Homo sapiens: one gene and its partners. The protein of the gene in region 1 purifies or fractionates together with the protein of each later gene. This does not show direct contact. Each region holds a gene or a part of one and is shown in the gene's direction. Other genes may lie near its edges.

Region 1 (6,902 bases):
CAGGGAGATTTGGCTATAGACTGAAGTACTAGGTGCTTCTAAGGCATCATTAAATTTGTTATGTGCGATAATGATATTATGATTATATTAGCAGAATGTCCATTTTTGTTTGTTGGTTGGTTTGTTTTGAGACGAAATTTTGCGCTTGTTGTCCAGGCTGGAATGCAGTGGCACAATCTCGGCTCACTGCAACCTCTGCCTCCCTGGTTCAAGCGATTCTCCTGCCTCAGCCTCCCAAGTAGCTGCGATTACAGGCACCCACCACCATGCCTGGCTAATTTTTTGTATTTTTAGTAGAGATGGGGTTTTCACCGTGTTAGCCAGGCTGGTCTCGATCTTCTGACCTCAGGTGATCCACCTGCCTCGGCCTCCCAAAGTGCTGGGATTACAGCCGTGAGTCACCACACCCGGCTTCAGAATGCCCATTTTTTAAAAAGGAAGATTGCACACTAAAGTACGTAAAAGTGAAATAGCACGATGTCTGGGATTCGTTTAAAAATATTTCAGCAGACTCGGCATGGTGGCTCACACCTGTAATCCCAGCACTTTGGGAGGCTGAGGCAGGAGGATCCCTTGAGCCCAGGAGTTTGAGACCAGCCTGGGTAACCTAGTGAGACCCTTGTCTCTAAAAATAAATTAAAACAAATTTAAAAAAAAATAAAGGGCCAGGTGCGGCGGCTCCTGCCTGTAATCAGCAATTTGGAATGCTGGGACGGGCAGATCACCTGAGGTCAGGAATTTGAGACCAGCCTGGCCAACATGGTAAAACCCTGTCTCTACTAAAAATACAAAAATTAACCGGGCATGGTGACAGGTGCCTATAATCCCAGCTACTTGGGAGGCTGAGGGGAGGCAGAGGTTGCAGTAAGCCGAGATAGCACCATTGCACTCCAGCCTGAGAGACAAGAGTGAAACTCCATCTCAAAAAATAAATAAATAAATAAATAAAAATAAAATAAATAAAATAAATAAAATTTTAAAAATAAATATTTCAGCAAATAACAATAGGAAAATGCAAGTTTCAAAAAAGGTATATGGTATTTTGTCTAAGAAAAGAGAGTATGAGAATATATATTTTATTTTCTTGGGTTTGCATTGGGAGTATACACAAGAAACTTATGAAAATGAAAACCTGGTCGGGTGCAGTGGCTCAAGCCTGTAATCCCAGCACTTTGGGAGGCTGAAGTGGGCAGATTGCAAGGTCAGGAGTTCGAGATCAGCCTGACCAACATGGTGAAAACCCATCTCTACTAAAAATACAAAAATTAGCTGGGCACGGTGGCAGGTGCCTATAATCTCAGCTACTCAGGAGGCTGAGGCAGGAGAATCGCTTGAACTTGGGAGTCGCAGGTTGCAGTGAGCTGAGATCGTGACGCTGCACTCCAGCCTGGGTGACAGGGCGAGACTCTATGTCAAAAAAAAAAAAAAAAGAAAACCTATAGCATAGGTGGGAGAAATGGGGGTAAACATGGAAGGATGGGATCATGGGATCAAGGCTTCTTGAGCTTTTTATATTCCTTTTACTTTTTAACTATTTGAATGTATTATCTAAAGTTTTTAAGAAAATAAACAGGAAATAAAAGTTAAGTGAACATGAAAATGTTCAGAACCAGCTCCCTACACACACAAGAGAGTTAAAGGAGATCTCTAGACCCCTTCATATCTAGACTTTAATGAACTAATAAATTGTTAATGTTTTATAAAGCTGGTCTCAGTAGCAATTCTAGAAATGAGCAGAAAACAAAGTGGTAAAAACAAAACATCGCTGGGCACGGTGGCTCATGCCTGTAATCCCAGCATTTTGAGAGGCCGAGGCAGGTAGATCACCTGAGGTCAGAAGTTCGAGACCAGCCTGACCAATATGGTGAAACCCTGTCTCTACTAAAAATACAAAAATTAGCCGGGCATGGTGGTGTGCGCTCTTAGTCCCAGCTACTTGGGAGGCTGAGACAGGAGAATTGCTTGAACACAGGAGGCGGAGTTTGCAGTGAGCCGAGATCGCGCCACTGCACTCCAGCCTGGGCGACAGAGCAAGACTCTGTCTCAAAACAAAAACAAAAACAAAACAAAACAAAACACAGAAACTGAGGGCTGATGCTTTTAAGAGCCTTGACCAAGTTCATGCTGCTAATAAAAATAACCCCAGACCCCATATTTAATCTATTCTACCTTATGCTTGAATATGGTCATTTGCTGGTTATTAGTTATGTGGGAAGACAAACATTAAATTAATAAAACATAATTTATAGTGGAAAAAATCTGTCACTTAGGGGGCTTATGCTCTCATTCTAAATCACCAATCATGTGCCTTTCGGCAAATCAATTTTCTGAAGTCTCAGATTCCTTGTCTATAAAATGAGAAATTGGCCGGGCGCGGTGGCTATGCCTGTAAACCCAGCACTTTGGGAGGCCGAGGCGGGTGGATCGCCTGAGGTCGGGAGTTCAAGAACAGCCTGACCAACATGGAGAAACCCCGTCTCTACTAAAAATACAAAATTATCCGGGGTGGTGGCACATGCCTGTAATCCCAGCTACTCAGGAGGCTGAGGCAGGAGAATCACTTGAACCCGGGAGGCAGAGGTTGCAGTGAGCCGAGATCATGCCATTGCACTCCAGCCTGGACAAAAAGAGCGAAACTCCATCTCAAAAAAATAAATAAATAAATAAAAATAAAATAAAATAAAATGAGAAATTGATTATGATCTCTTGAGTAACTGCCACTCTGCAATGCTATGGGAAGTACACACATTGAACAAGTTGCATATTTATATTAAATGCCATTTGTTTATATTGAACAAATTTGGTATTTATACCCAATGCATTTAATGGCATAAATGTGAATGACAAAGAAACTCAGGAAGGCAAGACATAGAGGAAGGCCACTGGCTTTTCAGAAACCACTCAGCCTGTGAGCTCACTTCCCTTTTATAAAAAAAAGCTTTTGCTTTTAAGGTGTCCAGATAAAGGTCACACTCCCAGAGCTGAGGCTACGTGAGTCTAAGCTGTTACCTCAGTTATGGGAGTGTGGCTGGAACTCAACACTTTCTGATCATTCATGGCCAAAGCCTCTTGGGGTAGGGGAGAGGGGGCACCTTGTATGCATGAGATGAAACAGGATACCAAGATCCCCTTAATTCTACTCAGAGTAGAGGAAAGGAACTGTTGCCAAAAGGAACATGTTTTTTCTAAATTGAAGAGTTGGAAGTTTGAAGGTCAAAGTCAGAATATTAGAACAGAGAGCCATGCATGTATTATCTAATACAATTTTCTCATTTTATAAATTATATAAATGAGGAAACTGAGACTCAGCAAGGTTATAGGATACAACCTAATCTGTGTTAGAAGAAGGATGAGAGTGAGGCTTATGCTGGGAGTTGCTATGGTCTGTAAATGTGAGGATAAGGAACATGCCATTCACTGTTGTGTTCCACTTCCTAGTCCAGTGCCTGGTGCAAAGTAGGGGCTTCATAAACTTTGGTCACAGGCCTGATGAAGGGACTGATTTGAGTGAATGAATCCATGGATGATGCATCTGTACTTTGTGTTCCCCGCTAGTCAGATGGACTCGGACATGCTCCATTTCAGGTGTATCTCATCTGAGACATTATTAGAGGGTTCTCTTTATGTGCCATGACTGAGTAGCGTTTTCTTCCACTGAAGTATTGCTTCCTCTTTGTTGATATCACAGGACAGACATCAGAACACTTACAGGATGTGTGTAGTGTGGCATGACAGAGAACTTTGGTTTCCTTTAATGTGACTGTAGACCTGGCAGTGTTACTATAAGAATCACTGGCAATCAGACACCCGGGTGTGCTGAGCTAGCACTCAGTGGGGGCGGCTACTGCTCATGTGATTGTGGAGTAGACAGTTGGAAGAAGTACCCAGTCCATTTGGAGAGTTAAAACTGTGCCTAACAGAGGTGTCCTCTGACTTTTCTTCTGCAAGCTCCATGTTTTCACATCTTCCCTTTGACTGTGTCCTGCTGCTGCTGCTGCTACTACTTACAAGTAAGTCTCGGCATGGATATTTACAATGACATAATGGTGCTGTACAGAGGACAAGGGAGAGATACAAGGATGGCCATTGTAATGTTGTTTGTAATAGCAAAAGCTTGGAAGCAACCTAAATGTCCGTCGATGAGGGAGTGGGTAAATAAATGTGATATAATCATGATACAAACAGTGAGTCTGACAAAACATACTGGTATAGAATGTCTCAAAATTATAATGTTATTAAAGAAAAAAAGTTGCAGAATAATGCATATATTAGGCTTCTATTTGTGTGTGTGCATTGTCGGGGAGCAGGAATATGTGGACATTTCTTAATGTATAAGCTCTAGGAAAAGGAACCAGGGAATGGTAAAGAGTTGGGAGAGTAAGGCATATTTTTCTTTTCTTTTCTTTCCTTTTTTTCTTTTTCTTTTCTTTCTTTTTCTTTTTTTCAATTGAGATGGAGTCTCACTCTATTGCCCAGGCTGGAGTGCAGTGGTGGCACCATTTTGGCTCACTGCAATCTCCGCCTCCCAGGTTCAAGTGATTCTCCTGCCTTAGGCACCGGAGTAGCTGGGATCACAGGCGTGCACCACCACACCCAGCTAATGTTTTTAATTTTTAGTAGAGACAGGGTTTTACCATGTTGGTCAGGCTGGTCTCAAACTCATGGCCTCAAGTAATCTGCCCATCTCAGCCTCCCAAAGTGCTGGGATTACAGGCGTGACCCACCGTGTGCCCGGCCACTTTTTCATACACCTTTGATAGTGTTTGAATGTTTTTACTGTAGTTGAGTCATATGAAAACAAAGGGGACATAAAAAATCAAAAGAAAATATATAATGAATGTTTTATCATATATAAAATATATATAGTTTTTTTTTAATGGAATTAACTTTGTCATTTGAGGAAAATGAGGAGACAAGTCTCAATCATTTTAGGAGATTTGTTTGCCAAAGTTAAGGAGGCACCTGAGAGACAGGTCTATGACTTTCTCAGAAGATGATTTTGAGGGCTCCAGATTTAAAGGGGACAAGGTGGGATATTGAGAAGCACTCAGTTTTCACATAAAAAAGGGGGGGGGGCAGAGGAAAAATATGGGGAATCTGCATTTTACATTAGATAACACAGACAAAATGGGGTAGGGAAACAATCAGATAACGCATTTGTGTCTGGCCAGGGTGACCGCACCGGTAAAGATGAGCTATCAATCTGCATTGCACAGCTGACCAGGAATTTCCTTGTGGGCAAAATATGGGGGAGGTATGCAGCCTTTCATCCTGTAGCCATCTTATTCAGGAATCAAAAAGAGGAGGCAGGTTTCTGTGACCCAGTTCCCAGCTTGACTTTTCCCTTTGACTGAATGAGTTTGGGGTCCCAAAATTTAATTTCTTTTCACAACTTTAAACCTTAAAACAACTCCATGAGTAGTTTCAAATACACAAGATCCTTATTTAACCAAGGGTTTGTATTTACTGTGCACTTGCTGCTTAAAAAGAGAAGTATGTTAGGAGAGCCTCCCTTTGTTGATGAACAAGCAAGTAGCCCAGATGGGCGGGCCGTTTCCTGGCTGACCATGACTAATTTTCTGATTGTCTGTTTCCATCAGCCCTGTTCTCCCGTGTTCACAGAATTGGGCCACAATTCTCTCCTAGGGCAGTGTTTCTGAAAGTGAGGTTCTGAGACCAGCCACTTCAGCAACACTTGAGAACTTGTTAGAAATAAAAGTTCTCAGGCTCTACCACAGGCCAACTGAGTCAGGAACTCTAGCAGTTGAGCCCAGCAATCTGTGTTTTCGCAAGGCTTCCCAGTGATTCTGATGGCCTTCACATCTGAGAAGCATTGTCACAGCGAATCATCCTCCAAACAGGACTGCAGCAGTAGCTTCCTCTTTATTCTGTAAGACATGGCTTGCAGTTTTCCTGAAATGGAGTAACCTCACTCACCGCTTGAGTCTTGGCTCTCCTTCTCTCTCTATGCAGGGTCCTCAGAAGTGGAATACAGAGCGGAGGTCGGTCAGAATGCCTATCTGCCCTGCTTCTACACCCCAGCCGCCCCAGGGAACCTCGTGCCCGTCTGCTGGGGCAAAGGAGCCTGTCCTGTGTTTGAATGTGGCAACGTGGTGCTCAGGACTGATGAAAGGGATGTGAATTATTGGACATCCAGATACTGGCTAAATGGGGATTTCCGCAAAGGAGATGTGTCCCTGACCATAGAGAATGTGACTCTAGCAGACAGTGGGATCTACTGCTGCCGGATCCAAATCCCAGGCATAATGAATGATGAAAAATTTAACCTGAAGTTGGTCATCAAACCAGGTGAGTGGACATTTGCATGCCATCTTTATGAATAAGATTTATCTGTGGATCATATTAAAGGTACTGATTGTTCTCATCTCTGACTTCCCTAATTATAGCCCTGGAGGAGGGCCACTAAGACCTAAAGTTTAACAGGCCCCATTGGTGATGCTCAGTGATATTTAACACCTTCTCTCTGTTTTAAAACTCATGGGTGTGCCTGGGCGTGGTGGCTCACACCTCTAATCCCAGCACTTTGGGAGGCTGAGGCCGGTGGATCATGAGGTCAGGAATTCGAGACCAGCCTGGCCAACATAGTAAAACCTTGTCTCCACTAAAAATACAAAAAATTAGCCAGGCATGGTTACGGGAGCCTGTAATTCTAGCTACTTGGGGGGCTGAAGCAGGAGAATCACTTGAACCTGGGAGTCGGAGGTTGTGGTAAGCCAAGATCTCGCCATTGTACTCCAGCCTGGCTGACAAGGGTGAAACTCTGTCTCAAAAAAAAAAAAAGAAAAGAAAAGAAAAGCCAAAACTCATGGGTGGAATGTATAGATGGGATGAAAGGCCTAGATCAGTGGTTAGAGACCCTGACTCTCATTAGAATCACATAG
Region 2 (7,047 bases), on another chromosome or scaffold:
GGATTTACAGTCTCACATTTTATGACCCATAGGTTCACAGACCATTCCATATTCATTTATCAAGCAACAGTTTATTAAGCACTTCATCTCTTAGCACTATGCTAGGAGGTGCCAGAATTACATTTACATCAAAAACCAGAAAAGACAGCTTCCAGCCCTCATGGCCCTTACAAACGAGTGAGAGAGACAGACAGTAGGCTCAAGGGCATTTAGTACTGTAATGGGGGCAGCACTTCCAGGATGCTGCAGGAGGCACAGAGGAGGAACAGCCAATTCTGACTCAGGAGATTATGGAAGCCTTCTTGGAGGAAGTGATGTTGAGACTGAGAGCGGAGGGATGAGCGGAAGTTAGCTAGGTCATAGGAGTGAGGGGTGGGGTGGCGGGGAGAACTTCAGGCAGAGAACAGGATGCACCTTCTCAGGGGCATATGGGTATATTTGACATCTAATTATTTTTGTTTTTAGAATTACCTGTTCAGTGTTTATAATCTCCTAGCACATCTATGCCAAATAGAGCTAAGAGGTACCCTGGACCAGGGTTTTCAAAAATATCTGCTGGTTCTTCAGTTCTGGAAGGTTTGCAAAATTCTGATGTGACTTTGATTTCTAAGTGTTATTTAATATTTTTAAATTAAAAATTTTTATTTAGCACAGTTTTAGATTACTATTTAATTTTTAAGTTTAAATTTCAGGCCGAGTGTGGTGGCTCACACCTCTAATCCCAGCACTTTGGGAGGCTGAGGTGGGCAGATCATGAGGTCAGGAGCTTGAGACCAGCCTGACCAACATGGTGAAACCCCGTTTCTACTAAAAATACAAAAATTAGCTGGGCATGGTGGCATGCACCTGTAGTCCCAGCTACTCAGGAGGCTGAGGCAGGAGACTCGCTTGAACCCGGGAGGCGGAGGTTGCAGTGAGCCGAGATCGTGTCACTGCACTTCAGCCTGGGCGGCAGAGCAAGACTCCGTCTCAAAATAAATGAATAAATTTCAAACTAATTGCAAAGTTACAGAAAAGTTGTGAGGATAGTACAAAAGAAAATCCCCTCAAAAGTCCCATATATTTTTAATGACTTTACCACTTGTTAGTATTTTGCATCATTTGCTTTAATCATTTATATGTCTACCAATATATATGCACGCCCTCCTTCCACCTCCTCATCTTATTATTTTTATTATTCTTGCCAAACAGTTCGAGACATCATTTTACTCCTAAATACTTTAGCAGATACCTGCTAGAAACAAGGACATTATCTTGCAGAATCCCAGTAAAATGATCAAGTTCAGAAAAACTAGCATTGATACTATCCTACTATCTAACATCGCGTCTATATTTGAATTTCACCAATTATCCCAACAATGTCCTTTACATTTTTCTGGTTGGAGATCCAGTCCAGAATCACCCATTGCCTTTAATAGTGATGTGCCTCAGCCTCTTTGTCTTTCACATCATTGATATTTTTGAAGAATACAGGTCAATTGTTTTGTAGGATGCCCCTTAATGTGAGTTTGTTTGATGCTTCTTCATGATTAGATTCCATTTACGTATTTTTAGCAGGTAAATGATATGTGTCTTTTTCAGGAGACCATATCAGGAGGCTCATGGTGTCTGTGTGTCTCATGATTGGGGATATAAACTTTTATTTGTTTTATTTTTTGTATATTTTAAACTGTAACAAAAACATGCATCTCCAAATGTGTTTCTATTCAAATTTTATCACAAAGAACATTCATAATGAGCTAATCTGCTCTAGGTTACCTTGACTGAATGCAGACCAGAGTATTCAGTCTCTCCTGCCGGCTGTGCATATACCTGAACTTTGCTCAAGTGTGTCATTGATTAATAATGTTGTAACTGCACATTGGCCTAGAAATGCTGAATGTAAAGTTGTATGGGTAACAAATTACTGCTTAGTTATACAAACAAGAATTTGCTTGACACAGTACAATGAAAACAACATACAAAAGTAAACTGGAATCCTGAGGCTAATAGTGAGCCCCATTGAGCAGATTTGGGTTCATCATGAGAGCATCAATGCCTAATTTTATACTAATTTGGACTTATACAAGAAATTAATAAAATACCCTTTGCATATGTTGTATATGTGTTTTATATGTTGGGTTCCTATATAAGATGTTGATTAAAATGAGGATCTCTTACTTTGGCCATTTGGAAACCACATTGTATCCCACCATAGCTCCTAACCACTGTACAATTTCTGCAACTCTCTCATCATCTGCAAGCCGTGATGTTTCTTTTCCTGGTACCTGGGATTTTGCCCTAATTTTTAACACCTACAGAGCTCAGGGAACACACATATATAATTTACCAAAAGGTTTTGGGGTGTGGTCCCTGGATGCTCCAAAGTGCATACAGTTTGAGATTTCTTTCTTTCCTTCTTGAAGTTCAGTTCTGCTTATGTTAAAACATGCCAATACAAACATTAGGAATACAACCATACCCTATGCAATAACCTACTTAGCCACTGACCGACACCTCCACAAATGACCCAACCATAGGACAGTCCTACCTTATTCCAGAGCTTTTATTCCACAAATGAGGACACTGATATCGAGACAGGTGGATCTCCTCCTTCTGAAGGACAGCTGCTAACGGTAGTCAGATGCAACCCAGCTCTGCTGGTGCCAGGGATTGGGGTGGTTTTCTGATGGCAGAGGCAGTCCCTCAGGAGGTGACAAAGCTCCTTTCCTTTCTCTTAGCAAGTGTGGGTGGCTGGCAGCTGAAGCAGGCCTTGGGCAAGGTCCTTCAGTCTGGTTTACTCATCTCAAACTCAGCCAGAGTTGAAGCCCAGCCAGGTCCTTGGAGGCCTCTAGATTTCCTCGTAGATTTTGTAATAGAAGATGTCCTAACAGAAACACAGGACTGAATAAATGTAGATACCTTAGAAAGTCATTTATTTAAAAAAAATAGCTGGGCATGGTGTCATACACCTGTAGTCCCAGCTGCTCAGGAGGCTGAGGCTGGAGGATTGCTTGAGCCCAGGAGTTTGAGGTTGCAGTGAGCTGTGATTGCACCACTGCACTCCAGCCTGGGTGACAGAGGGAGAATTTGTCTCCAGAAAAAGAAAAAAAAAAAAAAAAGAAAGAAAGTCATTTGTAGTATATTTTCTTTGGGAAAATACATTGAGTTCAAAAAGAATTTTCCAAGCTCAACCAATGTATCAATAAATTGGAGACTACTTACAACTCACTTCATTCCACTGAACCAGTATGGATTTCATATTTATATATGCAAAGTAGTACAATAGTTATTTGGTGGATGCAAAAAGAATGGTCCCATGCTCAAGACATCCGCAATAATCCTGGAGAGATGATACAAAGATATATTAAAAACTTAATAATCATATAAGGTAATGTCTGATGACATGCTCGGATGAGTGGAAGAGAAAATGGGCCACTGAAGAATGGAGGTAGTCAGACGTGGTTGAACGCTGCGGCTCCTAAGTCAAATGACCTGCGTGAAACCGCAGCTGCTCCACTTCCTAGTCGTATGGCAAGTTTCTTAAAAGTTCTCTAAGGCGCTGAGAACAGCTCTGGGCATTTTTGGTGCCCCAAAAATGTTAGCCATTATTATTACCTCTCAGTCTGTGCTTGAACCACCACTTCAAGAATGGGCAGGGTGTGAGTAGAGAGGCGGGAGTGGGTTTTGGAGCAGGGTGACAGAATCATAATGAATTGTCCTCGCGAAAAGCTCCACGAACTACTTTTCTAACTTTGTTGGCAGCTACCAAGTGTGGGCGGCAGGCGGCCATCCTCTTGGCCGCCTGAGATCCCAGCGCCTGTCCCCAGGGGGCGCTGCCACCCAGCTGCCGCCGCCCGGCCCAGCGCGCGTCCCCGCCGCCCACCCGCGCGTGCGCGCCGCCCAGGTGAAGAGGCGGCGGCCAGGGCCGCGGCTGGGGCGGGCTCCTCAGTGGGCCGGGAGGGGCGGAGCCGGGAGGCCCGGGCGGGGCGGAGCCGGGACGAGCCCCAGGCTGGAGGCGGGACCAGCCGCTGCCGTCTCCGTCTCGGTGTCCCGGCCCCTACAGCGCCCGGCAGCCGCGGCGGGAGGAGCGGAAACTGTCGGGTGCGTCCCGTTCGGAGCCGCGCCGGCCGAGAAGGCGCCGAGGAGCAGCGAGGCGGCCTCTGTCCGGCCCGGACCCGCCGAGCGGCGTGCGCGCCCCCTCCCCGTAGCCTCGCGGCGCGGCCTCGCCCCGGCCCCTCCCGAGCTCATCGCGGGCCCACGGAGCGGCCCCGGAGGCCCGAGCGCGCCCACCTGAGCCCCCGCGCTGGCGCCATGGCGGAGCAGGAGAGCCTGGAATTCGGCAAGGCAGACTTCGTGCTGATGGACACCGTCTCCATGCCCGAGTTCATGGCCAACCTCAGGCTCAGGTGAGGGCGGAGCGGCCGCGCGCAGGGGCGCGAGGCTGCGCTTTCCCGAGAGGGGGCGCCTCGGGGCGCGGCCGGATCCGGGGTGTCGGGAGCGCCCAAGCTCCAGGGATGGAGGCGCGGCCGGGCTGCGGTGTCCGGGGGTCTGCCAAGCTCCGCGGCTGCGCTTTCCCGAGAGCGGACGCCCCTGGGGTGCGGCCGCTTTGGGGTGCGGGGGGCGTGTCGAGCTCAAGGGCCGCGCTTCCCTGAGAGGGGAGCCCTGGGCGCTGTCCGGGGTTTAGGTGCAGAGGGTGTGCCGCGCGGGAGGGCGCGCTTCCCCGCGCCAGGTGAGGGATGTGGGCGGGCCGGTGACCTCATGGAAACTGAAGGGAAATAACTTGAACGAGAGTTGCGGTGGCCCCGAAGGCCCTAGGAGGACTGGAGGATTATTTTGGAGAGAGGCTGGCGTCTCATCCCGGCTTTACACTTGCTTCTTTTCTTTCTTTCTTCGCCCTTCTTTTTTTTTTCCTCCTGGCGTAGTTCCATCCTGTCATTCAGGATGCTATGGAGTGATCCCTGAGCTGTCTGTTCCGGGACACTGGCTATTTTTTTAGTTACTCTCTAAACGTAATTAGACACGTTTCCAGACATCGAAGAGACTGCTGTACTTGCCAGTGCCAAGATAAACTGTCTGAATTTGACAAGACGTTCATGGTTTTGGTTTTTTTCAAGGAGTTAGTGGATGGAGCTCTTGTGTTATTAACATCCTTGAGAACGTAGTCACAACTCAACGCCCCAAAATGGGCTTCCAAGATGTGGATTTGTTTTAGAAAGCCCTTTACATGCGATTATTTCACCCTTGATAGAGTAATATGTAAACAGTTTTAAAGTAGTTTGACTTAAACATTAAAGTAAGTGGAATTTCAAAATAGCTGAGTTTTGGTGTGCGTGTGTATGTTTCCCTGCAAGCTTTGGCTGCATTTCTTCTAAGGTTTATAGCTAAACATCATTCCTTAAGCTTATAAAGTGAAAGTCATAATCTAGGCTTGGGTGCTTAACCCTAATTTCATTATTAACTACCCCTGTCAATCCAGTTGACAGGGGTCAATCAGGTTGATTACATACCAGCATAATGATAGGATGTTACATTTCTGATCAAGGTTTGGATGTACAACTTTTATAGAAATCACCCCAAATATTAATCAAAATGATATACCTCTACATCAGCTATAACCAATACCCATTATCATAGTGATTAAGAGTCAGACTGTTGAGATTCAAATTCTAGTTCCACTGCATTCTTGCTGTGATCTTTGAGCAAGTTACTTAACCTCTCTGTGCCTCAGTCTTCCCGTCTGTAGGATTGGGGTTGTCCTGAGGGTTAAATGAATTATTAATAATATGTGTATACATACTTCAAAGATTAGTGCCTGGCAAATCCATATTAGTAAAACTGTTTTAAGTTTTCCCAAGTGCACATAAAATAGATAAAGGGGTAAGTTACATAGCAATTTCATAGATTAAGGTTGTTTTAAATTAAGAGATTCTACTCCTCTCCCCCACAGGAAATAAGTTGTGTGCTTTGAGAAATGCCTTTATAATTTTGTCACTCTCAGTTATAATCATTTCAGTTTTTCAGACATTGGTACATTTATTATGTACATACTGTATACAAGACCATGTAGTAACAGTTGAATATGAAGCCTTTCATTTTAACCTCCATCTTTCACCTCCAGCAAATACATGGGCTTAGCCAGAGCTTTTGCAGAATTTTCAGAATTTGAAATTGAAGGCATAGAGTCTAACAGGGCTACATTAGTTTGTAGGACTACTCCTCTGTAATAGAATTAAAACTCTTGTGGTTTTTAAAAAGTAAATTGAGGGAAGGCACTTAGAATTTCTGCTTTTTTTTTTAAAGCATTAAGTCTCTTAAGTGTGAAGTTTGAATCTCAAAATAGATTACTAAGGTGAGCCTAACAACTCCTATGTGTACAGAAGAGAATGCTGCAATTTATTTATATTTATATTTATATTTTTTAGAGATGGGCCCTTAGAGTTGCTATGTTGAGCAGACTGTTCTTGAATTCCTGGCCTCAAGCAATCCTCCCATCTTGGCCTCCCAAAGCACTAGGATTATAGGTGTGAGCCACCATGCCCGGCCGAATGCTGCAATTTAATTCTACTGTGTGCAAGGTACTCTAGGAGATAAGCTAGGAGTATCCAAAGAACTACAAGATGTGCTGCTTACCTCTCGAAGAGGTGACATCTCAATGAAGACCTGGAGAAAGGTGGAATTTTCTATTGATTTAAAGAATAGTTCAAGAAAACAACATCAGGAGGCTGAGACAGAAGGATTGCTTGAGCCCAGGAGTTCAAAGCTGCCGTGAGCTATGATCACACCACTGTACTCCAGCCTGTGTAATAGAGCACGACCCTGTCTCTTAGAAGAAAAAGAAGAAAGAAAACAGAGAGAGACAGAGACACAAAGAGAGAGAGAGAGACAGAGACAGATAAAGAGGAAGGAAGGGAAGGAAGGAGAGAAAAGAAAAAAAGAAAGGAAAAGAAAGAGAAGATAAAAGCCTTATAAAGCTTAGGTGATTATTTGTCAAGTAATTATAGAAATTGTTCTGGAAGTTCAGAAGAGAGAGAGATACCTTAGGTTGACTCCAAAACACCTTATAGA
Region 3 (5,402 bases), on another chromosome or scaffold:
GTGCTGTTAGGTCACCTTTACTCCATTCCCTCCTTTTTTCACTTGGTGAGGCCTCACACACTGTACCTGCCCACGCAAAGTGTCACTAGAAGGAAGGGAAAGGGTAGTAGGATTCGTTTGCCTGTCTGGAGGTAGGATTGGTCTTTGTAGCTATTCCAGGTATGTCCATAAGTTTACCTAGGAATAGGGGAGCTGCCTGGGTGGAGAGGGATTTTTCTAGTTATGCATTTACATTCTTTTATCTGTCACTGGGTGTAATTATAAATTTGTGTCTATGTGTGAACATGTTAGTCTTTGTATGACTGTGTGTCTGTTGGCATTAGTGACACGAACTTTTAATCTTGCCATTTGGCCCTTGGGTATATGGCTGTGAGTGTTCTGTCACAATCACCATATATGCTGTGTGCTGTGTTCGTATATATATATGCAATACATACCAGTGTCAGCGTAATGGAGTGGTTAGGAACACAGGCGGCTTAGATTTAACCTAGAAACTGCTGTTTAGGAGCTGTATGACCTCAGGTAAGTTATTTAGCCTCCCTGGGCCTATTTCCTATAAAATGTAAATAGTAATAGTACTTTCTAGACTATCATATGCATCATTTTAAGAGTTTAACTTAATGTATAGACCAGTACTGTTCTACAGAAATATAATGCAAGCCACAATGTAATTTTTTTATGGTAGCCACATTTTTACAAGGCAAAAAGAGTGAAATTAATTTTAGTAATATATTTTCTTGAATCTGATAACATCCAAAAGATTATAATTTCTTTTTTTTTTTTTGGAAATGGAGTCTCACTCCATTGCCCAGGCTAGAGTGCAGTGGCGTGATCTTGGCTCACTGCAACCTCCGCCTCCCGGATTCAAGCGATTCTCCTGCCTCAGCCTCCCGAGTAGCTGGGATTAAAGGCATGCGCCAACAGGCCCGGCTAATTTTTGTATTTTTAGTAGAGACGGGGTTTCACCATGTTGGTCAGGCTGGTCCTGAACTCCTGACCTCGTGATCTGCCCACCTCGGCTTCCCAAAGTGCTGGGATTACAGGCGTGAGCCACTGCGCCCGGCCCAAGATTATAATTTCAAAATGTAGTCAGCATAAAAGATTAGTAATGGATATCTCACATTTTGTTTTTTATTCAGTCTTTGAAATCTGATGTGTATTTTACATTTCCAGCACATCTCAGTTCAGACTAGCTGCATTTCAAGTAGCCACATGTAGGTGGTGGCTACTTTCTCGGACAGCACAAGTATAGACCATTATAAGACCCTTACCAGCTACAAGTGTTAGCTATTATTCTTGTTGTCATTTATTATCAGGTATCTGTGAATTGTAGATGTCTGTGTCTTGTGTCTCTTGTCTGAATATATCCGGAGCCTTTGGGAAGAGTGGTGGGAGAGCAGTCCTGAGCTCTTTCTCCACCACCCTCATCCTAGAGAGCCTTCCTGGGAAGGTTTCAATGAGACCCCTGCCCCAGTTTGTGTCTCAGGCCCTTGTCCTCATAGCACCAGCCCCCAGCCCTGCCTTCTGTGCCTTGCCTACCCCACTCTCCTCCAGAAACCAGGCTGATTGTCCCTTGCCCCATCCCCTGCAGGTGGCCAGAATGGATTTGTGGCCAGGGGCATGGATGCTGCTGCTGCTGCTCTTCCTGCTGCTGCTCTTCCTGCTGCCCACCCTGTGGTTCTGCAGCCCCAGTGCCAAGTACTTCTTCAAGATGGCCTTCTACAATGGCTGGATCCTCTTCCTGGCTGTGCTCGCCATCCCTGTGTGTGCCGTGCGAGGACGCAACGTCGAGAACATGAAGTGAGGGGCAAGGGGTCTTGGGCAATGAGGGAACCTAAGGGTACAAAGTGAGTAGTGGATTGGGGGAAGGGGGCATGGTGTGTGTAGAAAAGACTGAGAGAGACCAGAGACAGGGAATGGGGAGAGGACTGCAAAGGTGGTCAGAAAGACAGTAAGGTGGGGGGAGCTGAGGCATGCAGATGGACATCAATGGATCCCACTGGGACCCCTTGCCATGACCCCACAGGATCTTGCGTCTAATGCTGCTCCACATCAAATACCTGTACGGGATCCGAGTGGAGGTGCGAGGGGCTCACCACTTCCCTCCCTCGCAGCCCTATGTTGTTGTCTCCAACCACCAGAGCTCTCTCGATCTGCTTGGTGAGACCCCACCACAGGGCACACCTCCCCCAGCCATGCCTCCCCTCCTGAAACCTTCCCTAGAATATCTTCTCCTAGAGATCCTCAATTCCCCTTCCTCTGGGACATTGCCCCCTTGCCTCCCACTCAGGCCTTCATTCCCTGGGTAGAACTGCCCTCATAAGCAGGTTACATATACTTTTGGTCACCCTTTCCTTCACTTGGGGCCCCCCTCCCTGCCTAGTCTCCTCCTTCACCTCCAGTCCCTACCAGAGGGTGATGAGCTGGGTGAGGTGGGTTGCCTTCTGTGACACTCTGCCTCCACCCCGATCCTCACCCACTCCCACCCTGCCCAAGGGATGATGGAGGTACTGCCAGGCCGCTGTGTGCCCATTGCCAAGCGCGAGCTACTGTGGGCTGGCTCTGCCGGGCTGGCCTGCTGGCTGGCAGGAGTCATCTTCATCGACCGGAAGCGCACGGGGGATGCCATCAGTGTCATGTCTGAGGTCGCCCAGACCCTGCTCACCCAGGACGTGAGTCATCCTGGGGAAATGGGGGATTGGAGGGATACAGAGTAGAACAGTTGTAAATAAACTGATATGCAGGGCCAGTGGGCCTCAAAGGTCCCATTATAACATCACACCTATTCTGACTCCTCCATATGTATTTGTCTTCTTTGACCCTCTTTCTCCCCCAGGTGAGGGTCTGGGTGTTTCCTGAGGGAACGAGAAACCACAATGGCTCCATGCTGCCCTTCAAACGTGGCGCCTTCCATCTTGCAGTGCAGGCCCAGGTGACTACTGCTCTTCGTTCTGCTACTCAGCTGCCAACCCCCACCATTCCCTCATCTCTGGGCAGGGGCTTATTGTAGGAGTCTCTGAAGAGAGCTGTGGACTGACCTGCTTTAACCCTTCCCCAGGTTCCCATTGTCCCCATAGTCATGTCCTCCTACCAAGACTTCTACTGCAAGAAGGAGCGTCGCTTCACCTCGGGTGAGGGCTTTGAGCAGTTCTGGGGTAGGGTGTGTCCGGAGAGGCTGGGAGGACATCCCTGTGAGGCAGGGGGATCATTCAGTGTCAGAGCCATGAGATGTCTACACAGTCATCTAGTCTAACCCCACATCAGCCAATAAGTCTTTACTAAGCACCCACCATACCCTGCCAGATGGGTAGCACTTGGTCCCACCAAGAGAGGCTGTTACTAATCTTAACAGGAAAGATAAGGCCTGTGTGCACAAAGCTGTAATGAATAACACTCATTCAGCAGTAAATGCCAAACCCAGAGGAGGGGGGCTGGAGGGGTGCTGAGGAGATGTCTGAACTGGGGATTGGAGAAGGCTTTGTATAGGAGAAGGGCCTCAGAAGTGGCAGCTGGCAAGCCCAGGGATGGTTGTCCAGGGTTGGGGGAAGAGAACTGAAAGGTTGAGGAAGAGTATCACTCGGAAGCTGGGCCCCACCTGTGGGCAAAGACCTGGGTGGACAGGCCATGATGGTGCTCCCCTTGCCCCAGGACAATGTCAGGTGCGGGTGCTGCCCCCAGTGCCCACGGAAGGGCTGACACCAGATGACGTCCCAGCTCTGGCTGACAGAGTCCGGCACTCCATGCTCACTGTTTTCCGGGAAATCTCCACTGATGGCCGGGGTGGTGGTGACTATCTGAAGAAGCCTGGGGGCGGTGGGTGAACCCTGGCTCTGAGCTCTCCTCCCATCTGTCCCCATCTTCCTCCCCACACCTACCCACCCAGTGGGCCCTGAAGCAGGGCCAAACCCTCTTCCTTGTCTCCCCTCTCCCCACTTATTCTCCTCTTTGGAATCTTCAACTTCTGAAGTGAATGTGGATACAGCGCCACTCCTGCCCCCTCTTGGCCCCATCCATGGACTCTTGCCTCGGTGCAGTCTCCACTCTTGACCCCCACCTCCTACTGTCTTGTCTGTGGGACAGTTGCCTCCCCCTCATCTCCAGTGACTCAGCCTACACAAGGGAGGGGAACATTCCATCCCCAGTGGAGTCTCTTCCTATGTGGTCTTCTCTACCCCTCTACCCCACATTGGCCAGTGGACTCATCCATTCTTTGGAACAAATCCCCCCCACTCCAAAGTCCATGGATTCAATGGACTCATCCATTTGTGAGGAGGACTTCTCGCCCTCTGGCTGGAAGCTGATACCTGAAGCACTCCCAGGCTCATCATGGGAGCTTTCCTCAGCACCTTCACCTTCCCTCCCAGTGTAGCCTCCTGTCAGTGGGGGCTGGACCCTTCTAATTCAGAGGTCTCATGCCTGCCCTTGCCCAGATGCCCAGGGTCGTGCACTCTCTGGGATACCAGTTCAGTCTCCACATTTCTGGTTTTCTGTCCCCATAGTACAGTTCTTCAGTGGACATGACCCCACCCAGCCCCCTGCAGCCCTGCTGCACCATCTCACCAGACACAAGGGGAAGAAGCAGACATCAGGTGCTGCACTCACTTCTGCCCCCTGGGGAGTTGGGGAAAGGAACGAACCCTGGCTGGAGGGGATAGGAGGGCTTTTAATTTATTTCTTTTTCTGTTGAGGCTTCCCCCTCTCTGAGCCAGTTTTCATTTCTTCCTGGTGGCATTAGCCACTCCCTGCCTCTCACTCCAGACCTGTTCCCACAACTGGGGAGGTAGGCTGGGAGCAAAAGGAGAGGGTGGGACCCAGTTTTGCGTGGTTGGTTTTTATTAATTATCTGGATAACAGCAAAAAAACTGAAAATAAAGAGAGAGAGAGATCTGGGTGTTGGTGGTTGCATTTGTTAAGGAATTGAAGAAGCAGTTCTTGCCCAGGCAACCTGCCCCCAGCCAGAAGACTCAGGGGCAGGCCAAGAACACAGGCCTCCCCCTTTCTTCAGCTCTCTGAAGTTTCCATTGTTCATTGCTCTTTGGTGGCTGATAGCCTTATCTGCAGCTCACAGTCGGCCAATCCCAGAGGATTAGTGGGTCCGGTTTCTGTATAAATTAGGGGGCAGGGGTGCTGTAGAGGCTTCTTATCGATGATTGACGCCGAGGCCCAGGCTGTTGTCCTCACAGGAGCCTGGTTAATGACATGGCAGACACAGTGGCTGTGGTCAGCCTGGAGTGGACTACACTGCCACTCTCACCAAACAATAAGTGAAACTGTTGGGCTGGGGACAGGATTTCAGAAGAGAACGATGGTAAAGTGGAGAGGCATGAGGATAGTGAATGTTGGAGAGGGGCTTGGAGGAAAGAGGGAATGCCTGAATGGAGAGGGGTCTTGGGGAAAGTTGG
Region 4 (7,406 bases), on another chromosome or scaffold:
GGATTTTACTCTTAAGAGCAATGGGAACCAGAGGGGAGGGGTAGTTAAGTAGAGTAATTATTTGATCTTTTTTTTTTTGGGGGGGGACAGAGTTTCATTCTTGTTGCCCAGGCTGGAGTGCAATGGCGCAATCTGGCTCAGTGCAACCTCCACCTCCCAGGTTCAAGCGAGTCTCCTGCCTCAGCCTCCCGAGTAGCTGGGATTACAGGCATGCGCCACCATGCCCGGCTAATTTTGTGTTTTTAGTATAGATGGGGTTTCTCCGTGTTGGTCAGGTTTGTCTCCGACTCCCGACTTCAGGTGATCCGCCCGCCTAGGCCTCCCAAAGTGTGGGATTACAGGCGTAAGCCAGCACGCCCGGCTGATCTCCTCCCTCCCTTCCCTCTTTCTTTCTTCCTTTCCTTTCTTTTCCTTTCCTTTCCTTTCCTCTTTCCTCTCTCCCTCCTTCCTGCTCTCTTTTTCTTCTCTCTTTTTTCTTCTCTTTTTCATTCCTTCCCCTTCCTTCCTATTCCTTCCTTTCCTTTCCTTCCCTCACCTCCTCTCCTCTCTCCTCCCCTTCCCTCCCCCTTTCCTTCCCTCCTTCTGAGTTTTGCTATGTTGCCCAGGCTAGAGTGCTGTGGCATGACCTCGGTGCACTGCAACCTCTGCCTCCTGGGTTCAAGTTATTCTCCTGCCTCAGCCTCCTGAGTAGCTGAGTAGCATGCACCACCATGCCTGGCGAATTTTTGTATTTTTAGTAGAGATGGGGTTTTGCCATGTTGGCCAGGCTGGTCTCGAACTCCTGACCTCAAGTGATCCATCCGCCTCGGACTCCCAAAGTGCTGGGATTAGCCTGGCTGATTACTTTACATTTTGAAAAGATCACTGCTTTGTGGAGAGTGGGTTATAGGGCAAGTGTAAAAGCAAGGACAGTAATTAGGAGAGTTTTGTAAAAGTGCAAATGTGAGAAATGGTGGGGGATGAAATACTAGGGCAGCAGAGGTAGAGCTGGTGAGAGGATATTCTGAAGGCAGGACTTCATAACGGAGTGGTGAGGAAAACGATGGAATCAAGGATGCATCCTGGATTTTTTTTAACAAGACACACTAGGTTAGACATGAGATTGGGAAAACTCAGGGAGTTGTCCCCCTGAGGGACAAGGGAAACTCGAGGTTTTTGGCAGTGTTAAATATGAGCTATTAATTGTCCATGGGTGGCGGAGGTTGCAGTGAGCTGAGATCGCGTCACTGCACTCCAGCCTGGGTAACAGAGCAAGACTCCATCCCCCAGCACCAGAAAAAATGCAGGAGCGAAGGAGATAGGATCCACAGCACAAAGGGAAGAACTACCCTTTAACACATACAGAGACATTTCACAAGGACAGGAGGAAAGAGCAGTATTTAAACACAAAGAGGTTGACCAGGAGCAGTGGCTCAGACCTGTAATCCCAGCACTTTGGGAGGTCGAGGCAGGCAGATCACTTGAGCTCAGCAGTTGGAGACTACCCTGGCCAACATGGTGAAACCCTAAAAACACAAAAATTGGGAAATGCATGTTCTAGCTTTCTGTGTGCTTAGGTGCCCATGCTACTGAGGGTCTAAGTCCAGGCAGCCGAAGAGTGTGGTGAGCAAGATGAACAAAGATGCGCAGATGAGAGAAGCCATTAACATATTAAAGTAATTTAAAGTTTGGGTGGTCTGGATATCATACTGTTTTAGCCTAGATTTTACTCTGGATACTTTTCAGAAGTAGCTGGCACTTTAAACCATATGTTCTATTAAACGTTCTTTCCAAGAAATATCTTGAGTGATCCCAAGGAAAACTGGACAAGTGGAATCTCTGTCTTTCAACTTTGGGATAGTGATTATACCTCTGTTAGTGCTCATCCACCTAACAAAGCTTGGCAATCCAAGTTAGTATCCCAGGGGAGTTTAGTTTGGTTGGATGGTGGAAGACTGATTTTTTTTTTCCATTTAGCACTGTCTAGCCAAGAGACACCACTATTTACAAGTTCTTAGACAGCTGAAAGGAAAATAAAAATGCCTAATTTGTGGAGGAAATCAGGAAGTCTAAAAATCCAAGAAAAATATTGCAACAGAAAAATGAAAGCTGACTTCATCTTAAAGAAACATGGCTTACAGGTAGAAAATGCCAATATCAGGCCGGGCACTGTGGCTCACACCGGTAATCTCAGCACTTTGGGAGGCCGAGGTGGGAGGATCATTTGAGGTCAGGAGTTCCAGACCAATGTGGCCATCATGGTGAAACCCCATCTCTACTAAAAATACAAATATTAGCCAGGTGTGGTGGCACATGCCTGTGATCCCAGCTACTCAGGAGGCTGAGGCATGAGAATTGCTTGAACCCGGGAGGAGGTTGCCATGAGCTGAGATCGCGCCACTGCACTCCAGCCTGGGTGACAGTGTGAGACTCCCTCTCAAAAAGTAAAAAATAAAATATCAATATTGTATCTTCAATAATTTACCTTTCATATGGTCTAAAGAGGTTTTTGTTTTGTTTTGAGACGGAGTCTTGCTCTGTTGCCCAGGCTGGAGTGAAGTTGTGTGGTCTCGGCTCACGGCAACCTCTGCCTCCCGGGTTGAAGCAATTCTCCTGCCTCAGCCTCCCGAGTAGCTGGGATTACAGGCTCCCCCGACCATGCCCGACTAATTTTTGTATTTTTAGTAGAGGGAGTTTCACTATGTTGGCCAGGCTGGTCTTGAGCACCTGACCTCGTGATCCGCCTGCCTTGGCCTCCCAAAGTGCTGGGATTACAGGTGTGAACCACCACGCCAGGCCAGGTCTGTTTTAAAAATATAAAGTCGTTATAAAGAACTCTCAAGTGTGTTGCAATAAATGCTGGATTGACGCTGTTAACAAGAATAAACTAGAACTTATAATATATGCCATGTCAGAGAAGGAACTAGATTCCAGAAAACAGAAGGTAGTTCTCTTTTACCTTACTGCCTAATGCTAGTGTCAGAACCACAGTAAAGCCAGCAACATTTGAGACCAAACCCGAGGACAGTCCTCAGGATTTTACAGGTGAGGGGCCTCGGCTTCAGGGAAGTGGCTTGTGAAACACCTTTTTGAGGGACCATTATGTAATAGCTAGAGTTGCTTTCGAAAAAAGAAATAGCCTCGAGCCGAATGGGGAGAGAACATGGGGCATTGCTATTGGGTTCACAGCTGTCTTGGGCTAATCAGGGCAAAGCGTAGCACTATGACCTATGCAGAGTTAGCTCGCCAGGGACAGTAGCTATTCTAGAGAACCTTTTGCTTTTAGCTTTGTATTCTAGGATTGGGTGAGGTGAGGGATGCGGGCGCCCATCCCACGTGTGACAGTGGGAAACTAATGGAATTCAGGGAGTTCACTTCCCGGCTCGCACTCCGGGGGCGGGAGGGTGCTGCCACCGCCTCAGGTCGCGCGCTCCTTAGGCTTCCCTCTCACGGTTAGCGCTACGGCTCCAAGGCTGGCGCCTGCTCTTCTTCATCTCCCTCCCCGGCCCTTGGCAGGAGCCTCGCCCTACATTGGCTCTTCAAGTCCGGGCGTCCCCTTCATGTGGGAGACACAGCCCAGACCATTCCATCGCCCTGGATTCTGCCCGGACCAGCGACCTCGCCGGACTGAAGATTTCTCCAGCAAGATTGTTTTAAATAAAGTTTTTGCCATCAAAAAAAAAAAAAAAAAAAAAAAAGGAGATGGGAAGGAGAAGAGGGAGGCCTAGTCGCCAAATGGTTGGCCAATCCGCCGCGAAGGGGCTGAAGCAGGAAGCGGCGATAGTCGTCGGTAATTGGCTGCGCTGGAAGCCTGTCTGGACTGTACCACCTCAGTAGGAGAGGGGTTGCTGAATTCGAGAAGGTAGCTGCTTGCTTTTGAGTACTTCTAGTACACACACATAATTCTTTTCTTATTTCCGGGGGTTTTTGCTTGGATTCAGTGGGAATACAACAGGACGCAGGAGAAGGGAAGACTCGCCTGGCCATTTCCTCATTCCTGACTCCTGTGCATTAGGCCAATCCTTGTCTCTTAGTTGTCCCCGCAACCCCACGGCCTTACGTGCGCGCTCTCGTCTTCTCGCGTGCGTACGTCGTTGTGTTGCTGCAGCCAATCAGGCCGCGAGGTCGCCGCGGTCGCCAGGGTTCGCGCGCACGCCCCAGATCGGAGTCGGGGTGGGGGCTATGGGTGAATGGGAGAGTGAGCGGGGTTGGGCGCGGCAGCGCGAGCCGCATGAATGAGACAAACGTGCGCCGCGCGAGACGTCGCGCGAGCCCGGACTAGGGAGCCAATGGGAACGCTGGAAGGGTTCGAGACCCGGCACTGAGGGCAACGGCCGCGCGCCGGCTCCGAGACGAGCGACGCCTGGCGGGAGCGCGCGGCAGCGGGGCGGGCGTGGAGCGTGCGGGGGCCGCGCGCTGCTTCTCTGAGGCAGGACGGCACTGCCGGGAGGCGGCGGTGACAACGACGGCGGTGGTGACGGGCACCGGGCTCGCGGGTGAGTGCGGAGGACACCGGTCCCTGCGGAACCGGAAGTGCCGTACCAGCGAGGTGGGAGGGGAGGGTGACCTCTAGGGAAGGGGGACCGAAGACGGGGAGGGTATTAAGGCCCTATTTCTCCTCCGGGCCGGGTCTTCCAACCGCGGCGGGACCCATGGGCCTTGGAAACGGACGACGAGTAGAGGCCGGGGATCCACGACCGCCAGGGCTCGGAACGGGTTAGAGACGGCCACTCAGCTCGAGACCGCGGTCCCCGGTGCCTGGCGCCCAGCCGCCGCCCCTTCCGCCCCCGGCCCTGCGCCCTCGGGCTCTGCGGTCCCCGCAGCCCGCTCTCTCAACCTCGGTGGGCCTGGCCGCCGTGGATTCCTTCTTTTCGGTTTCAGCGGTCGTCAGCCCTGCCCCAACGGGTGATTCTCCTTTCCCCAGTCCCGTGGTGGGGACCGGGTGCTGTTTCCCTTTTACCGCTCTGCGGTTCGAGTCCCTCGCTCCACTCTGCTGATACTTATTTTGGCTCAAGCTTCATCCTGTTACCTGTTCTCTCTCACCCGTCCGCTTCCTCCTCCTACCGCCACCAGCCGAGTGCTCCATGCGTTTAGTACTTTGTACTTTTTAAAGTGGAGCCCGAATGCGTTTGTCAATATTTTACCTATATTTGGGGCAGGCAGGTGGAAAGTGTTTTACCCACTTGGCCAAATGAAACACTGAAATAAGAAGTAAGAAAGTTGCTAAAAGTTAGGAAGGCAGTTGTAGGATCACATATACGTTATACGCTAGACTATTTTTTGCCTTGGATTCTTCACTTCCTGGTTAATGCCATCTTGACCAAGTTGATCTAACATTTGCATATCATCCTTCTATCTCAGTATACCTCTGTCCTGGATCAAATATCTTCAGAATGCTCATTATCACCCATTGTATAAACTTAATGTTTACAAAATTATATTGCCATGTATTTTGCTACCTCGGTATATAATGATAACACCCACATTAAACTTCTTGGCTCTTTCTCCCATACCTTGACATGTGAATTATTCCATGGTACCTCCATTACTGTGCATTTAGATTTACTCTATTGTACTGTTACACCGCTTATTTCAACAAAAAATAGTTGTGTTGTCCTTGGTACTGCTGGTATCCACCTATTTAAGGAAATACCTGTATTAAACCTTATTAAAGCCTTCAAACCACATATCCTGTATTGTTTGTTTTACATATACATATTTCCATTTCATAGTTTACTCTGTGCCTCAATATGGCATACATATTACTTTTTTTCTCATTTTTGAGACGGAGTCTGGCTCTGTCGCCCAGGCTGGAGTGCAGTGGCTGCTATCTTGGCTCACTGCAACTTCCACCTCCCGGGTTCAAGCGATTCTCGTGTCTCAGCCTCCCTAGTAGCTGGGATTTCAGGCATGCCCCATCACGCCCTGCTCATTTGTTTGTATTTTTAGTAGAGACAGGGTTTTGGTATGTTGGCCAGGCTGGTCTCGAACTCCTGACCTCAAATGATCCGCCCGCCTCGGCCTCCCAAAGTGCTGGGATTACAGGCGTGAGCCCCCGTGCCCAGCTGGCATACATATTCTTGTATACTTTTTTGATACTAGTATGGATTCAAACTGTTGACTCTGATGAACCATACTCACCCTTGTGGTTTCATCCTAGTATCTGCAGCACATTCTTTTGCTAAGAATTGGTTCATCTTTATTTATACCCAATAAATTGTTAGGTTTTTGATTTCCCTTCTACTGTGTAGCCCCCAAGCATCTCAGATGCTGTTCTCTTTTGTGTTCCCAGTATTATACTCCCAAAATTGCATGGCCTTTCATGACTCTGTATTACTATGTCAATATTAGTCCATGTGACTTTTTTCCTGTGGAAAATATATGAAACAATATATAGTATCTAAATGATATTCTACTCTAGATAAAATTTAAGTAGTATAATTTTCCATCTTTTCTAGTCTTTGGGATTTTGAGGGAAAAGTTTGCTTTAATAGTACATATTGGCTGGGCAGAGTGTCTCACACCTGTAATCCCAGCACTTTGGGTGAGGAGGCAGATCACCTGGAGGTCAGGAGTTCGAGACCAGCCTGGGCAACATGGTGAAACCCCATCTCTACTAAAAATACAAAATTAGCTGGGTGTGGTGGTGCCCTCCTGTAATCCCAGCTGCTCGGGAGGCTGAGACAGGAGAATTGCTTGAATCCGGGACTCGGAGGTTGCAGTGAGCTGAGATCACACCATGCACTTCAGCCTGGGTGACAGAGGGAAACTGTGTTTCAAAAAAAAAAAAAAAGTACATATTGTCTACAAATCAAGAGTTTGCTTTTGTTAACAAAGTTACTGAGGCCTACATTCCAAATGTTAGGCTTCCATTCCTGTAGGAAACTGAGAGTTAAATAATCATTAAATCAGGGACTAGAGAGGATTTATGTTTTCTAGGACTATAACAGTTTCTTAGAATCTTTTGGCGCTCACTGTATTCTAATACTGCTGTTTGGCCCTCTGAAACCCTAATTTTAAAGAGAGAAATGAATCGTAAGGGAAGGCACCTTTGCCTTCCATGCCATAGGTGAGAGAGGAAGTGGTACATTATAGGGCACATTTATATTTTGTTATCTGAATCTTCTGATTTTTTTTTTTTTTTTTTTGAGACAGAGTCTTGCTCTGTTGCCCAGGCTGTAGTGCAGTGGCTCACTGCAACCTCCGCCTCCTGGGTTCAAGTGATTCTCCTGCCTCAGCCTCCTGAGTAGCTGGGACTACAGGCGCCCGCCCGGCTAATTTTTGTATTTTTAGTAGAGAAGGGAATAAAACTACTTTCTTTTAAAATTCTAACTTAAAATTTTTGGCTTGCAGATTCCAAGTTATCATCTCTGGGCAGGTAGTGGATGAAAAGGTAGAAAGGGTTTGTGTCACCAGAGGGGCATGTG

Evidence for each region.
Region 2: the proteins of HAVCR2 (region 1) and MYO1D purify together in Homo sapiens (co-immunoprecipitation; 3 studies listed by BioGRID and IntAct, with this or other methods). This does not show direct contact.
Region 3: the proteins of HAVCR2 (region 1) and AGPAT1 purify together in Homo sapiens (co-immunoprecipitation; 3 studies listed by BioGRID and IntAct, with this or other methods). This does not show direct contact.
Region 4: the proteins of HAVCR2 (region 1) and ZDHHC5 purify together in Homo sapiens (co-immunoprecipitation; 3 studies listed by BioGRID and IntAct, with this or other methods). This does not show direct contact.

The regions. Positions count from the first base shown.
Region 1 is NC_000005.10:157,106,034-157,112,935, reverse strand, and holds the start of HAVCR2 (hepatitis A virus cellular receptor 2 precursor), read left to right. Parts: upstream 1-3,891; 5' UTR 3,892-3,952; coding exon 3,953-4,010; intron 4,011-5,973; coding exon 5,974-6,309; intron 6,310-6,902. UniProt on the Homo sapiens protein: Cell surface receptor implicated in modulating innate and adaptive immune responses. Generally accepted to have an inhibiting function.
Region 2 is NC_000017.11:32,874,119-32,881,165, reverse strand, and holds the start of MYO1D (unconventional myosin-Id), read left to right. Parts: upstream 1-4,041; 5' UTR 4,042-4,293; coding exon 4,294-4,388; intron 4,389-7,047. UniProt on the Homo sapiens protein: Unconventional myosin that functions as actin-based motor protein with ATPase activity. Plays a role in endosomal protein trafficking, and especially in the transfer of cargo proteins from early to recycling endosomes.
Region 3 is NC_000006.12:32,167,695-32,173,096, reverse strand, and holds the end of AGPAT1 (1-acyl-sn-glycerol-3-phosphate acyltransferase alpha isoform 1 precursor), read left to right. Parts: exon of another isoform or gene 1-159; intron 160-1,591; coding exon of another isoform or gene 1,592-1,600; coding exon 1,601-1,800; intron 1,801-2,026; coding exon 2,027-2,160; intron 2,161-2,496; coding exon 2,497-2,672; intron 2,673-2,836; coding exon 2,837-2,932; intron 2,933-2,980; exon of another isoform or gene 2,981-3,058; coding exon 3,059-3,131; intron 3,132-3,648; coding exon 3,649-3,821; 3' UTR 3,822-4,885; downstream 4,886-5,402. Other genes in the region: EGFL8 (epidermal growth factor-like protein 8 precursor), read right to left, coding at 5,141-5,187. UniProt on the Homo sapiens protein: Converts 1-acyl-sn-glycerol-3-phosphate (lysophosphatidic acid or LPA) into 1,2-diacyl-sn-glycerol-3-phosphate (phosphatidic acid or PA) by incorporating an acyl moiety at the sn-2 position of the glycerol backbone.
Region 4 is NC_000011.10:57,663,713-57,671,118, forward strand, and holds the start of ZDHHC5 (palmitoyltransferase ZDHHC5), read left to right. Parts: upstream 1-4,401; 5' UTR 4,402-4,475; exon of another isoform or gene 4,476-4,884; intron 4,885-7,406. UniProt on the Homo sapiens protein: Palmitoyltransferase that catalyzes the addition of palmitate onto various protein substrates such as CTNND2, CD36, GSDMD, NLRP3, NOD1, NOD2, STAT3 and S1PR1 thus plays a role in various biological processes including cell adhesion, inflammation, fatty acid uptake, bacterial sensing or cardiac functions.